4 linked regions of the Homo sapiens genome follow. The protein of the gene in region 3 purifies or fractionates together with the protein of the main gene of each other region. This does not show direct contact. Each region holds a gene or a part of one and is shown on either strand. Other genes may lie near its edges.

What was found. Proteins that work in one complex are often made in the same cells at the same time.
Region 1: the proteins of MYCBPAP (region 3) and BEND3 purify together in Homo sapiens (co-immunoprecipitation; one large-scale study listed by IntAct). This does not show direct contact.
Region 2: the proteins of MYCBPAP (region 3) and TTC28 purify together in Homo sapiens (affinity purification with mass spectrometry; one large-scale study listed by BioGRID and IntAct). This does not show direct contact.
Region 4: the proteins of MYCBPAP (region 3) and CEP97 purify together in Homo sapiens (affinity purification with mass spectrometry; one large-scale study listed by BioGRID and IntAct). This does not show direct contact.

The regions. Positions count from the first base shown.
Region 1 is NC_000006.12:107,074,016-107,077,515, forward strand, and holds part of BEND3 (BEN domain-containing protein 3), read right to left. Parts: intron 1-3,500. UniProt on the Homo sapiens protein: Transcriptional repressor which associates with the NoRC (nucleolar remodeling complex) complex and plays a key role in repressing rDNA transcription.
Region 2 is NC_000022.11:27,977,514-27,980,677, reverse strand, and holds the end of TTC28 (tetratricopeptide repeat protein 28), read left to right. Parts: 3' UTR 1-2,664; downstream 2,665-3,164. UniProt on the Homo sapiens protein: During mitosis, may be involved in the condensation of spindle midzone microtubules, leading to the formation of midbody.
Region 3 is NC_000017.11:50,518,439-50,521,938, forward strand, and holds part of MYCBPAP (MYCBP-associated protein), read left to right. Parts: intron 1-102; coding exon 103-286; intron 287-535; coding exon 536-651; intron 652-1,201; coding exon 1,202-1,349; intron 1,350-2,671; coding exon 2,672-2,787; intron 2,788-2,877; coding exon 2,878-2,993; intron 2,994-3,500. UniProt on the Homo sapiens protein: May play a role in spermatogenesis. May be involved in synaptic processes.
Region 4 is NC_000003.12:101,766,114-101,769,613, forward strand, and holds part of CEP97 (centrosomal protein of 97 kDa), read left to right. Parts: 3' UTR 1-3,500. UniProt on the Homo sapiens protein: Acts as a key negative regulator of ciliogenesis in collaboration with CCP110 by capping the mother centriole thereby preventing cilia formation. Required for recruitment of CCP110 to the centrosome.

The DNA of each region.
Region 1 (3,500 bases), on a different chromosome or scaffold from region 3:
TTTACTCAGGGTAAATCATGCTACCTGTCCCACAGGGTGGTTGTGAGGATTTAAGGAGACAGTGCACACACAGCACTGAGTCTATCTGAATCACACTAAGTGCTTAATAAATATTTATGGCCGGGTGCGGTGGCTCATGCCTGTAATCCCAGCACTTTGGGAGGCCGAGGCGGGTGGATCACTTGAGGTCAGGAGTTCGAAACTAGCCTGGCCAACACGGTGAAACCCCATCTCTACTAAAAATACAAAATTAGTTGGGTGTGGTGGCGCGTGCTTGTAATCCCAGCTACTCGGGAGGCTGAGGCAGGAGAACTGCTTGAACCTGGGAGGCGGAGGTTGCAGTGAGCCAAGATCGTGCCACTGCACTCTGGCCTGGGCAACAGAGTGAGACTCTGTCTCAAAAATAAATACATAAAAATTTATTATTACAATATGATTTATTATTACGTAATGCTATTCCCAAGCCATGGCAGAGGTAGTTCTGTAGGGGACTTTTATTAGGGGAGTTGTAATGACACTCTCAAGTACACTGAGAAGGACTTTCCCACAGTGCCTCAGGGTAAGTCACTCATGGAAGGCACTTCTTAGAGGTCTGTTTGTCCTAAAGGCTGGGAATTTAAGCCCTTTATGTTTCTTCTGTTCTGTTATCTGGCATTATTTCTTTAAAAAAGAAAGAAAAGAAAACATATACACACACCAGAAAGGAAGGGGTGGAGATAGCTGAAAACCTTTACCCCTAATGCAGTGTTTCAAATTGTGGGATAGTAGATGATAACTGATTTTGGTGGATCGTGAAGAGGGAGGAGCCGGGCACGGTGGCTCATGCCTATAATCCCAGCACTTTGGGAGGCTGAGGTGAGTGGATCACGAGGTCAGGAGATTGAGACCATCCTGGCTAACGCAGTGAAACTCCATCTCTACTAAAAATACAAAAAATTAGCTGGGAGTGGTAGCACACGCCTGTAGTCCCAGCTACTCAGGAGGCTAAGGCAGGAGAATCACTTGAACCCGGGAGGCGGAGGTGGCAGTGAGTGCCACTGCACTCCAGCCTGGGCAACAGAGCGTCTCAAAAAAAAAAAAGAAGAGGGAAGGATTAGCCACTAGGGAGGCTTAGGTGGGAGGATCACTTGAGTCTTGGAGGTGGAGGTTGCAGTGAGCTGTGACTGCACCACTGTACCATAGCTTAGGCGACAGAGTGAGACTGTGTCTCAAAAATAAATAAATAAATAAATAAAGAGGGAGGGAAGGAGGAAATAAGAAAGCAAAAAGAATAGAAAATATCAAAGTGTACTGCACAAAGTAAATCAAGTTAAGAGTTTTGTTTCATTACTATGTGTATGTCTAAATACTTATTTACAAATTCATACAGGTAAGTTGTATTGCTCTATAAGGTGATTTATAACTGTGGGTCACTGTGGAAAACCATTGCCCTAACAAATACAAAGTGCCTTACTTGCTAATTCCTGTAGAATGTAAAGTAAAATTTTTGGCAATTTATTCACCATTTAGTTCTATTACACTAAAATAATTTTAGAGGTCCCATGGACTATAAGATTACTATAAGGTTTACCAATAGAGAGAAATTTGGGTTTGGAGTACTAACAATTACAAATCATAACTATATTAGGAGTGATTTTAGAAAAGGAGACTTTGCTTTAAAATAAGGTTCCATTAGCACATTTAAAATAGAATTTCCTAAGAAAGAGATCATCAGAAACGTATATAGCATGCAACAAGAGTACATGTTCTAGAGGGAGACTTGCCCAGGGGAGAAATGAGTACAGGGAAAAGTTTCTGGTGAATTATTTGAATACCAACAACACACACAAGGTTTGACTCCCTCACATTCCTACAGCAGGTGGGAGGCAAGAGTACATTGAAACTGGGAAACCCCCCATAACTCTCAATATTCAGCCTCATTAATACAAATATTTCCATTTCCACCAAGCATGTTAGAAACACTGCCGTCAACAGAAACATTTTTGGCTAGATTGCTTGAATTAAAAATGTTAGTGTCCCAGTAGAGGGCAATATTCACTCCCAGAAACCTTGGGTACACAATTCAACACAGAACACAACACAAGCACTGAAGAGAAACTTCTTAGATACTCCCACACTGGTGTCCTGTCAGCTCAGTGCTCCAATTAATTCCACAAATGCTGCCAAGGCGGCAATGGGCTGGCTGCGTTTGTGGCTGATGATAAAATCTCGGCTCAGCTGTCTAGGAGTATCAAGAAATCTTTAAATCTGTGCTACTTGGCACTGGGTAGGACTGGCTGACACATTCCCAATTCTCTGAGGCTCGTCTTCCAACCATATGGGAACTCTGCTGTACAGCTCAGGCTCTGCAATGCCAGCGTCTAGCCCGGATCTTGATCAGGGCGTTTCATTCAGCCACCAGCACCCGTAGAACCCAGAGAGAATGCCCAAATCTCTCAGCTGGAGAATCTGACTGAACAAAAAGAAGCTGATGTTGGGTTACAAGTGAGGGGTAAATAGACTATTTAGGGAGACTCCAGGTGTCCATGCCCAGTGACATCCCAGGGAGTGGGACACCCTGGAGATGCTCCAAGTGCTAGACGTCTTCATCGCAACCCCAAATCCAAGAGTGGTCACTGAATTTAGTTCAATGAATGAGTGGCTCAAAAGTGCCCTGAGAGTCAGCACGCTGGAACACTCAGAAAGCAGCATGGCTTGGGGAAGCAGAGAGGCCATGTGAAACAGTGGTCAGTTGGGCTGGCATCTCCCTCCTGGAATCACAGTCGCATGAATGATGCTTATACCACTTTCATTTTCAACATTATTATTTTCATCATCATCATCAAATTTTTTTTTGAGACAGGATCTCACTCTGTTGCCCAGGCTGGAGTGCAGTGATGTGATCTTGGCTCACTGCAACCTTCGCCATCACTCCCCACCCTCCCCAGGCTCAAGTTATCCTCCCACCACAGCCTCCCAAGTAGTTGGGACCACAGGCACACACCACCATGGTCAGCTAATTTTTTTTGTATTTTTAGTAGAGACCCTGTACTTATTTTTCTATCCTGGGTATTAATTAGGGCAGGTCTCCCTCTAGAACATGTACTCTTGTTGCACAGTATATGAATTTCTAATGATCTCTTTCTGCACAAAATCCTATTTTAAATGTGCTCACCATGTTGTCCAGGCTGGCCTCGAACTCTTGAGCTCCAGTAATCGGCCCACCTTGGCTTCCCAAAGTGTTGGAATTACAAGTGTGAGCCACCACATCTGGCCAAAACAATTTTTTTTTAAATTAAATCAGAGACAGGGCTGCACTAAGTTGCCTATGTTCACAGGCGTGACCCCACTACTGATCAGCAGGGGAGTTCTGACCTGCTCTGTTTCTGACCTGAGCCGGTTCACCCCTCCTTAGGCAACCCAGTGGTACCCCTCACTAAGTTCAGCATCAATACGGTGACCTCCCAGGATCAAGCCAGACACAGTCTCTGCTCTCACGGCTCTTACTCTGTGGGTCATCC
Region 2 (3,164 bases), on a different chromosome or scaffold from region 3:
ACAGGGTTCCTCATGAAGGTGGGCGGCCACCTGGCCTGGGCCACCAGCAGCACATGGAGCAGACCTGAGGGGCCTGGCAGGGGGCACTGACCTCAGGATCCCCAGGTGGGGGTTTTAACCATGGGTGGGATCTCAGCTTCTGCGCATACACTGACAATCTCACCTGTTCCTCAGTGTACTCCTCTGAAAAGAAGAAAGGATAATATTTATCCAATCTGTGTTCTCCTGAGCTCCATCCTAGGGGTTTTTAATTTAACCAACAGCCATGTTGACAAAAGCCAACAATAAGCATGTCTTATTCTAGCCCTGATCCCAACACTGAAAGCGAAGTACTTTATAAAGAAGCCAGCAATTATGAGGGTTTCTTTATGTTAGTAGGGGAAAAAATGGTAATAAAAGTACCAGTGTAGCAAGTGAAGACCAAATTTATAGCACTGTGCATTAGATAGCAAAATCAGGTTCTTAACAATGAAAAGTAAACCTCAAGTTTCTAAATCCATATGCAGATGGTTAGGCTGTCCCTCTCTTAGCAAATCTCTCAGCCTCCTTCTTTCCCAAGTGCCAAGGATCCCTGGAGTAAAGCTCTGGGGTCTGTGCTCTCTTTCTGTGAGGGGAAGGCTGCGGCCCTATTTGCCCCTCTCTAGCAAACACCCCCACCACCCTGCCGCTTCCTGTGGTTATTGAGCCAGCTAGGAGTTACTCATGGACTCTAACCTGGTTTTAGTCCCATGTACATCGTTGTTTTAGGTTTCATACTGAAGAGCCAATGGTTTATGTGGTTTTATTCTGTCTTAAATATAAGTTTCAAGGAAGGGAAAACAAAAGTGATAAAATGATAGAACAGTCTAGAGGCCACTGTAAAGTCACCGCCACTTTACGTGTATGTCAGTCTTGGTGTTCTTGTATGAGTAAAATGGATGTAAAATCATAAAATCACAGTGAATGTTTCAGGCTACACTGGAAAAAGTATGCACTTAGAATTAAAGGAAATTGTATAATTCACCAAGATTTCTTTGTGTAGATCAGGGGTTGGCAACTATGACCCACAGGCTAAGACTGGTCAGCGGTCTGGTTTTTCACAGCCATGAGCTAAGTTACCTTTTTAAAGGGTTATATAAGTAATTACATCATATTTTTGATTTTGCCTTTGGCCCACACCACATAAAATATTCAATACCTGGCCTTTTTTTTTTTTTTTGAGACAGAGTCTCGCTCTGTCACCCAGGATAGAGTGCACTGGTGCGATTTTGGCTCACTGCAACCTCTTCCTCCTGGGTTCAAGCAATTCTCCCTGCCTCAGCCTCTAAGTAGCTGGGACTACAGGCACCCACTACCATGCCTTGCTAATTTTTGTATTTTTAATAGAGATGGGGTTTCACCATGTTGGCCAGGCTGGTCTCGAACTCCTGACCTCAGGGGATCCGCCCGCCTTGGCCTCCCAAACTGCTGGGATTACAGGTGAGCCACTGCGCCCAGCCAATACCTGGCCTTTTAAGAAGTTTGCTGACTCCTGGTATGGATGACAGAAAATGGAATAACGTTTTGTTTCTCCAGTCTAGGAAAAGCAAGTCAGGTAGTGGATAGACTGACTGGCGTCCGGGGAGCCCAGGGTATGTGAGGGCCACGTGGATGGAAGCAAATGCCTCCTGCATAGCCCTTGGCTCTTTGTCCCACTTGGGAGGAGTCCATGGATGTAATATTTACAAAACAATTTTTTCCTTACCATTTGCAGAAAGCATTGCATATATTTCCTTTTAGCTCAGGAAACTGGCATGCCCCACCCTCTGCTACTCCATCAGATGTAAATACAATGACTATAAGCCGTACAACTCCCCTCTCTTAGAAACCTCAGCAGGACCACAGAGCAAGGGAGTCAAAGCTTTCTTAATTCTCTCCAGTAAATGACTCAACTAATTTGATTTTTTTAATTAAGTCAAAATATCAAGAGAAAAATTGCTACTAAAACTTACATTTTGATCCACACTGATGTGCAACACAAAATGAAAGTTTTCACCTCCATTCCATTTTTTAAAAATTCACGGTCCACACTGAAACTTGCTGGGTTTTAGCAGGAGACAAAGGTGTCACCCACGCTGTCCTCATCCTGCTCTCTCTGTCCCAGTGACGCTCCAGCATATGATCACTGCAGCCGGTCCCTGGCCCGTGCCGATTCTGCCACCTCCCAGCCACACACATTTGCAGACCCACAAGAAGAACTGTAGCCTTGATAATTTCAGTTCAGGCTGGAAAAATGCCATGCAATAATCTGGTTTGCTTTCAGTAAGTAGGCAACAAGTGAAAACTGTATAATTTTCATCACCTATTCTGCTGTTCTATCTAAAATGAGTGTACCTGTGGTTTGTGAACTGGGCCCTTGTTTGTGCCAGATCCTTCAAAGATGTTCCCTGTCAGGACACCTGTGGCCCTGCCCCTCCTCAGACACCTTCCCACTGGCATTCACGTTCCTTATATGCAGTGTTAGCCATCTTTGGCCTACGTGGACTTTTTTTGTAAATTACACCATTTCCAGACATTAAACTTTTTATATTATGAAATTTACCATGTAAAAAGAACTTCATATTTTTATTGAGATTGCTAAGGCACTTGGCCTTCCTCCTTTGTGATTTTCAGTGTCTATTAAAGCATGAGTTCCCTCAGTTTTAAGTGCTGTATCTGGATCACTTTCTCTACTCTTTCCACACTGTCTAGGTTTCTTTGCAGTACATGGAGTGGGCCGTGTGTCATTACTGAGCACGTATCTCTCTAGTTTTAACCCCACCTCTACACCATAGCCTCACATCCGCCAAGCAGAGAGCACGACCATGCATGCAGCAGAGCTGTCCCGCACGTCTCTGGTCTGGGGGCACTGTCGGTGGGGGGGTAATTTAGACGCTACTCATAGTTGGAGGGCCAGAAAGTTCGACAGTTGAATACGTATTTCGACAAACAGAAACAGAGTTCATCACCACCAGATCCCTATATCATCTAACAAAACTTCCAAGGTAGTATTTCAGAAAGAAGGAAGATAATTCTATATGCAAAAGTGTGAGAAGCATGAAGGAATAGTAAAGAATTGGGTAAATATGCATAAATGAACACAAATATTGCCTTTATAAAAAGAGTAATGTTTCATTCGGCTAACAAAAAATACTAGACAATAATAT
Region 3 (3,500 bases):
CGCAGTGGGATAACAGCACGGGTTTAGGCCTCGGGAAATGTGTGCTCAGCCCTGCCCAGAGCCTTCTTACTGCCCTCCACATACCTATGTTGTACTTTTCAGCTGGCTGAGCGGATACCTACCTCACCCTGTCTGATGACCCTCATCTCTGCTGAAGGAGAGTCAAAGCAAAAAGCCCCAAAAGAAGAGAAGAGACCTCCCTGGGCCCCACCTCCTCAGCACAACTTTCTGAAAAACTGGCAGCGTAACACAGCCCTGCGGAAGAAGCAGCAGGAAGCCCTCAGCGGTGAGCAGAGCAGACAGGGCTCCCGCCCGGCCTCCATCTGGCAGCAAGGCTCTGCTGGGTTGTTTGCTCTCCTCCAGAGCCTGGCCTTGGGCTGACCACATTTGTGCTTTCACTCCCAAGAGTGTCTCACTCTGAAGCTTCAGTGGATCCTGAAATCAGCCCTGTGAGGGAGGCTGCCCGATGCAGACTGCCAAGGCCCCTGTTTGTTCTGGTTCGGCAGAGTGGCGGCAATCTTGCCTCTCTCTCTAGAACACCTAAAGAAGCCAGTGAGTGAGCTGCTCATGCACACCGGGGAGACCTACAGACGGATCCAGGAGGAGCGGGAGCTCATTGACTGCACACTTCCAACCCGGCGTGATAGGAAAGTGAGGCCACCTGTCCTAAGTGCCCGGGGGCAGGGGGGTCCATGGAGGAGGGGGCGGGGGCAGGTGTCTGGACACAGGGATGCTGGTCTCAGGTGGCACAGCTGGGGAGAAAAAACCTATCCATTGCAAAACATCATTAGGCCCTCAAGGCCTTTACTAAATTATATGATTAGTCAGTAAAGTTATTCAGCCTGTGGTGACCACACAGGTAGCAAGTTATTAGAGTAGTCTTAGTGTTTGTCTCCTAGGAGCTTAGACTGAGTGGAGCCTACACCCTAAAGAGAGAGGTTGAAGAGTCCCCCACCTTTTTTTCTGGTAGACCAGTGCAGTACCTGTACCAACCCACACCATCTGGCTGGGGGCAGGTAAAGATGACAACAGGGTGTCCAGAAAACACGGCAGTGGATGCTTCTGTTATGCAATCACGGCAGCAATGAATTCCCCAGAGGAAGCATCTGTAGCCTGTGGTGGTGCTCTTGTCTTCCCACATCTCCACCAGCATCTGGCTGAGGTGTCCTGGTAATCTGACTCACCTTTCCTTCCTTGCCAGAGCTGGGAGAACAGTGGGTTCTGGAGTCGACTGGAATACTTGGGAGATGAGATGACAGGTCTGGTCATGACCAAGACAAAAACTCAGCGTGGCCTCATGGAGCCCATCACTCACATCAGGAAGCCCCACTCCATCCGGGTGGAGACAGGTGAGGCGCAGGGCTGTAAGCCAGCTAGCATCTTGTGCCTGGCCCGGAGGCAGGGTAGTGTGGAAGTGGCCAGCATAGCTCTACAGTGAAACAGGCCCAGGGCCTGTTTCTCTGTGGTTCTCTGGGGTCTTAGGCAAGTCCCAGAGTCTTCCTGAAGTCCGGCTCCCTCTTCTTTTTCTTCAGTAAAACGGTGAGAGAGCTAGGAAACTGGAGTGCAGCCATAGAGCTGCCGTCCAGTGTGGAGCCTTGAGCCACATGCCGCTGGTGAGCGCCTGGATCGTGGCTGCCCTGCCTTGAGAAGTGCTGTCACTGTCAACTGGACACTGGCTTTAGTGTGAAAACAATATATTTTATTAATCATTTTTATATTGATTACATGTCAAAATGACAATATTTTTGATATACTGAATTAAATAAACTATATTACTAAAATGAGGGCGGGCACAGTGGCTCATGCCTATAATCCCAGCACTTTGGGAGGCTACGGCGGATAGATCACTTGAGGTCAGAAGTTCAAAACCAGCCTGGCCAACATGGTGAAACCCTGTCTCTACTAAAAATGCAAAAATTAGCTGGGCATGGTGGTGCGCGCCTAGAATCCCAGCTACTTGGGAGGCTGAGGCAGGAGAATTGCTTGAATCTGGGAGGTGGAGGTTGCAGTGAGCCAAGATCATGCCATTGCACTCCAGCCTGGGCAACAAGAGCAAAACTCTGTCTTAAAATAAATAAATAAATAAATAAATAAACAAACAAACAAACTATATTACTAAAATGAATCCCACCTGTTTCTTTTTTCCTTTTTCAGTGTGGCATCTAGAAAACTTTCAGTGACACGTGTGGCTTGTGCTTGTGGTTTGCATTCTGTTTCTCTTAAGCAGCACTGCTTTAGAGCCTGCCAGGCTGCCTGGGTTCAGGTCCCAGCTGTGTCGTGTTAGTGAACCCCAGAGTGGTTGAACCCCTCTGGCCTGTAGTTTCCTCATCTGTAAAATATGCACAGGGTTGTGATAGGGCTAAATGAGATATGAAATGTATTAAGAGGTTCTGGCTCATTGTTAAGCACTCAATAAAAGGTAGCTGCTGTTATTATTTTTATTATAATCCAAAGATTTGGCTATTTGGAAGCTAATTTTTCAGGAGTCTTGTGTAGGGCTGCTGAGGAGGTATAGGACAGGAGAACGGGAGTCTAGCTGCCACAGGGAAGCTGTATTTTTAGTCCTTCCTAGAAATGGTGTTGGGATAGGCACTCTCAGAGCCCTTGAGAAGTGGGTGAGCAAGGGGACATGGCAGCAGCCTGTGCTGAGGGTCCTTGGACCTCATGCTAGGATTACCAGCCCAGAGGGACGCTTCATACCGCTACACCTGGGATCGGAGTCTGTTTCTGATCTACCGACGCAAGGAGCTGCAGAGAATCATGGAAGAGCTGGATTTCAGCCAGCAGGTTGGTATGGCCTCCATGCCCCAGTCAGAAGCCCCTTGGGGCGATGCCTGTCTTCAGTCAGCTCATCTTACCTTTCTCCATCTCTCGGAGGATATTGATGGCCTGGAGGTGGTGGGCAAAGGGTGGCCCTTCTCGGCTGTTACTGTGGAAGACTACACAGTGTTTGAAAGAAGTCAGGGAAGCTCCTCTGAAGACACAGCATACTTGTGAGTGCAGCCTGAACCCTGGGGAGAGAGGCTGAAGAGTTCTCCAGCACCTACCAGTATTAAAGAGCGGGCTTCCCTCCCTGAGATCAGGGTGCCTCTAGCCTAGCTTCTGTCCAGTGGTTGCCACCCACTCCTTGAACCCATTCCAGCACCTGTGCTGGCTTTCCTATTGCCATCTGCTCCTTTCCAATAACCAACTCCTAATGGGGATTTCCCAGACATTCCCTTGCTGGTCAACTGAGGGCTCTCTAGACCCTCCCACTGCTATGCATCTTGAATGCCTCTGGCATGGAGAGTCTGTGTATTTCTGTGTACTGTGAGTGGCTCTGGCAAGAGGGCTTAAAGAGTCTGTGTGTTTCTAAGAATCTCCCATCTACAGCAATGGGTCAGGAGGAAGCTGCGTGGGAGTGGAGTTGATCATACTCCATTGCAGGGTAGAGCTGGTTGTGTTTCTAGGCTTCCTGGTGACCGTTTCTGTGGGGTTCCACATGGCATGACTGTGGCAGC
Region 4 (3,500 bases), on a different chromosome or scaffold from region 3:
AAGGTAGGATTATAAGATTTCTCAATGGGGATGATTAAATTGTCTCATGGAAAACTTCAGTTAATGTCATGCATCAGTTTTAACATATGAAGTAAAGTGTTCTATCCAGGATTAAAGTCAAGTTTACTTAGGCAACACAAGAATATTTCACTTAGATATGAAGAAAGGAAACACTAGTCTCCATTCACTTGAAATACTCTCATGGCAAATATTTATCCTCTCATTAAGTGCTTTTTCACCCTATAGGTAAGCATTTTTGTGCCAACATGTTGTCAGAAATTAATGTATGTTCATCTCCTCTGTTCCTGCTTATTTTTACTTATATATTTCAGCAGAAGGTCCGTGGCCATTCACTTCAATTTTGACCTCTGTCCCATAGTGAAGAACATTTAAAGTAATACTACTGGTCGAATATGAATGACTTTTTAGGAACTACTTTTTGTCTAACCTGAAAAAGTTCCACATTTGGAAGACAATTTAATGATGGTGAAGAAATAATAAACCTCACTTTACTTGTTAAAAGGGATATATATATATATATATATGTCTGCAACTTCAGGGAGAAATAAGATTGTGTTTGAATATTGTAGGTAGATGCATTTGTAATTAAGGATAATATCGTTTAACAACATGTATTTGGTTTCCCTCAACTTACAGACATACAGCTATTTAAAACTATGGCAATACTTAAGCATCTCTAAATTTAGGTGCTAAATATCTATTATTCTGTTGTAGTCATTAGGTGCCCTTCTCTGAAGTTATGTAAAATAAAAGCATCTGATCCTTCAAGGATAAAGTTGAGGATCACATGGTACGTGGCATTTGTTGTTATTGTTTTTTAAAGAGATGGAGGCTGGCTCTGTTGGTGCGGTGCCATGATCATAGTTCACTATAACCTCGAACTCCTGGCTCAAGTGATCTCCCACTTCAGCCTCCCGAGTATCTGGGATTATAAGCAAGAGCCACTGCTCCCAGCTCATGGTATTTGTTGATAGTCATAACATTTTTCCTGTATGGTAAGACGTATTTTTCTCAGTTTATAAATACGTAGCACTCAGGTTGAGACGACTTGGATTTTATTCTTAGAAATCCAGAATCCCTTGAAAAGGAAATATTTTCTGTTTCTTATAAATAAAAGAGTAATCTTACTTTCAGAAGGATTTTCCTTAGTGAAACATGTGTAACATTGAATGCATGTTAAATAAAAATGGAATTTCTAACTTTTTTTCAATAGTGCTAATTATCTTTTCTGAATGATTTTGAATGTCTTCTTAAATATACCCTATTTTTCTATTTTAAAGTTAAGTGCCTCACTTGCTGTCCATAGTTAGACAAAGAAAAACCAATTTCCACTGCACTAGTACCAAAATACTACTTTATACATTAGTTTTTCATAAAAGCTGCTGGAATGTCATGATTCAGTATTACCTAAATAGATTTCTGCTAAAATCCTCTCCCTCCTGTCTTTTTTAAGTTATGGAAAAACACAACTAAATTCATTTGATCATCAGCACTTGTTAGCAGGATTTCCTTTTTTACCTTTGCCTTGTTTCTTTAGCCCACAAATAGTACTCAGCATACTTTCATTAAAAATTTGGCACAATATGATAATTGTTAATATTCTGTTCTTCGTCTGTGTTTTATTTAACTTTTACTAGTGTTTAGAAGTGCAAGAATATTAAATAGCCCCTTCCTTAACTGTACATATTATCTTGAATGTAGATAAAATGAAAATACTGTAAATTAGAGTGTAGGAAAACTGGCATAGAGTTAATATATTTTAATGGGTTTACATTATACTTTAAAAGTAATTTATATAATTAAAATATTTGGTTTTAACTCTATGGGCTATTCTTTGGTTGGCTGAAGAGGGAATGGGTCTAGTAAGGTTTGGAAAGTTAAGCTTTGAACATGGTCTTTGTGTTTTTTTCCTAACAAGGAAAGGTTTAGTTCAGCTGTGCTATTTTAGTACACATCAGTTCTCTTGATTTATGGAAGATTCAGTTTATCAATTAAGAATTCCTGCAGAAGCACAGAATCATACCATGTAAGAGTTGGAAGGAAGCTTAAGAGATTTCTGTTCGAATCTCTTTGTTTCAAAGATGAAACTAAAGCACAGCATGTTAAATGACTTGTCTAAGTTATAGCTAGTTAGTAGTAAATAAACTGAAAACCTATATGCTACTGTAGTCCAAAATTTTATTATGTCCTCTTAATCTTTACATTTAGTGAGTCAGTAAGGAAATCTCTGCATATTTCTCATTCTCTTTGAAAGAGGAAAAAAACTTCTAAGAGAGCTACAACTCTATCACTCATGACAGAGTTGCTTGTAGAAAATAACTAATTCCTTCAGAACCCTGAGTGAATTTTTTCTAAGAAATGTGACTTGATTAAAATGGTTTCAAAAGAGCAATAGTGGAAATTAAAGTTTTAGAAAAGAGACCTGGCGTGGTGGTTGACAACTGTAATCCCAGTGCTTTGGGAGGCTGAGGCCAGAGGATCACTTGAGGCCAGGAGTTCAAGACCAGCCTGGACAACATAGCAAGACCCCCCTCTCTACAAAAAAAATTTTTTTCTGAAAAGAATAAGTACATTTTAGAGTCCATTTATTTGACGACAGGCAGTATGACAGGTTGCTGAGGTATATAAAATTTTCTAGAGAAATGCTGAGTTTGATGACATTTTATCTTCAGTTTTGTAGAACAGATGTTAAAATGTTAACTCTCCTGGTGTGCAGAAAGCTGTAATCATGACAGTTGATAATATGCAATTTAGTTTGATTTTATAGGTTTAATTATAAAAGGCTTCACAATATGCATGTTTTAGGAAAATGTTCATTTATTTAGTCATATAATCGTTTGTATATATGTAAATAACTTTATTCTGGAATAATGTGGGTGCCATCTTGAGCGTGTGTTTTTATCTGTTTTGGATTATTTTTTGTATACAAACACCATAATACTGTATTTTCCTGTTATCTACTTAAGTCTAGTTCTACTTTTTCCCAATAATTTCAGGAAAATACAAGCTTGAGATATTATACTATCTCCCTTGGTATTTTTTGTGTGCAAAGTCTTAGAATTGGATTTATAACATTGATAATAAAAATATAAAACGTTTTTCCTCGGGAGTTAAGATGGTAAAAAGAAAAAAATAGAATGAATATGATCATTTCTCCATCATAAAGGAAAGAAGAGACTTCATTGTGTGTGTGTTTTTTTTTTTTTTTTCGAGATAGAGTTTCACTGTTGTCACCCAGGCTGGTCTCAGCTCACTGCAACCTCCACTTCCTGGGTACAAGCGATTCTCCTGCCTCAGCTTCCTGTGTAGCTGGGATTACAGGTGTGCAACCACAAGGCTCGGCTAATTTTTTTGTATTTTTAGTAGAGATGGGGTTTCACCATGTTGGCCAGGCTGGTCTCGAACTCCTGACCTCAAGTGATCCACCCACCTCGGCCTCGCAAAGTGCTGAGATTACAGGTGTGAGCCACTGTGCCCAG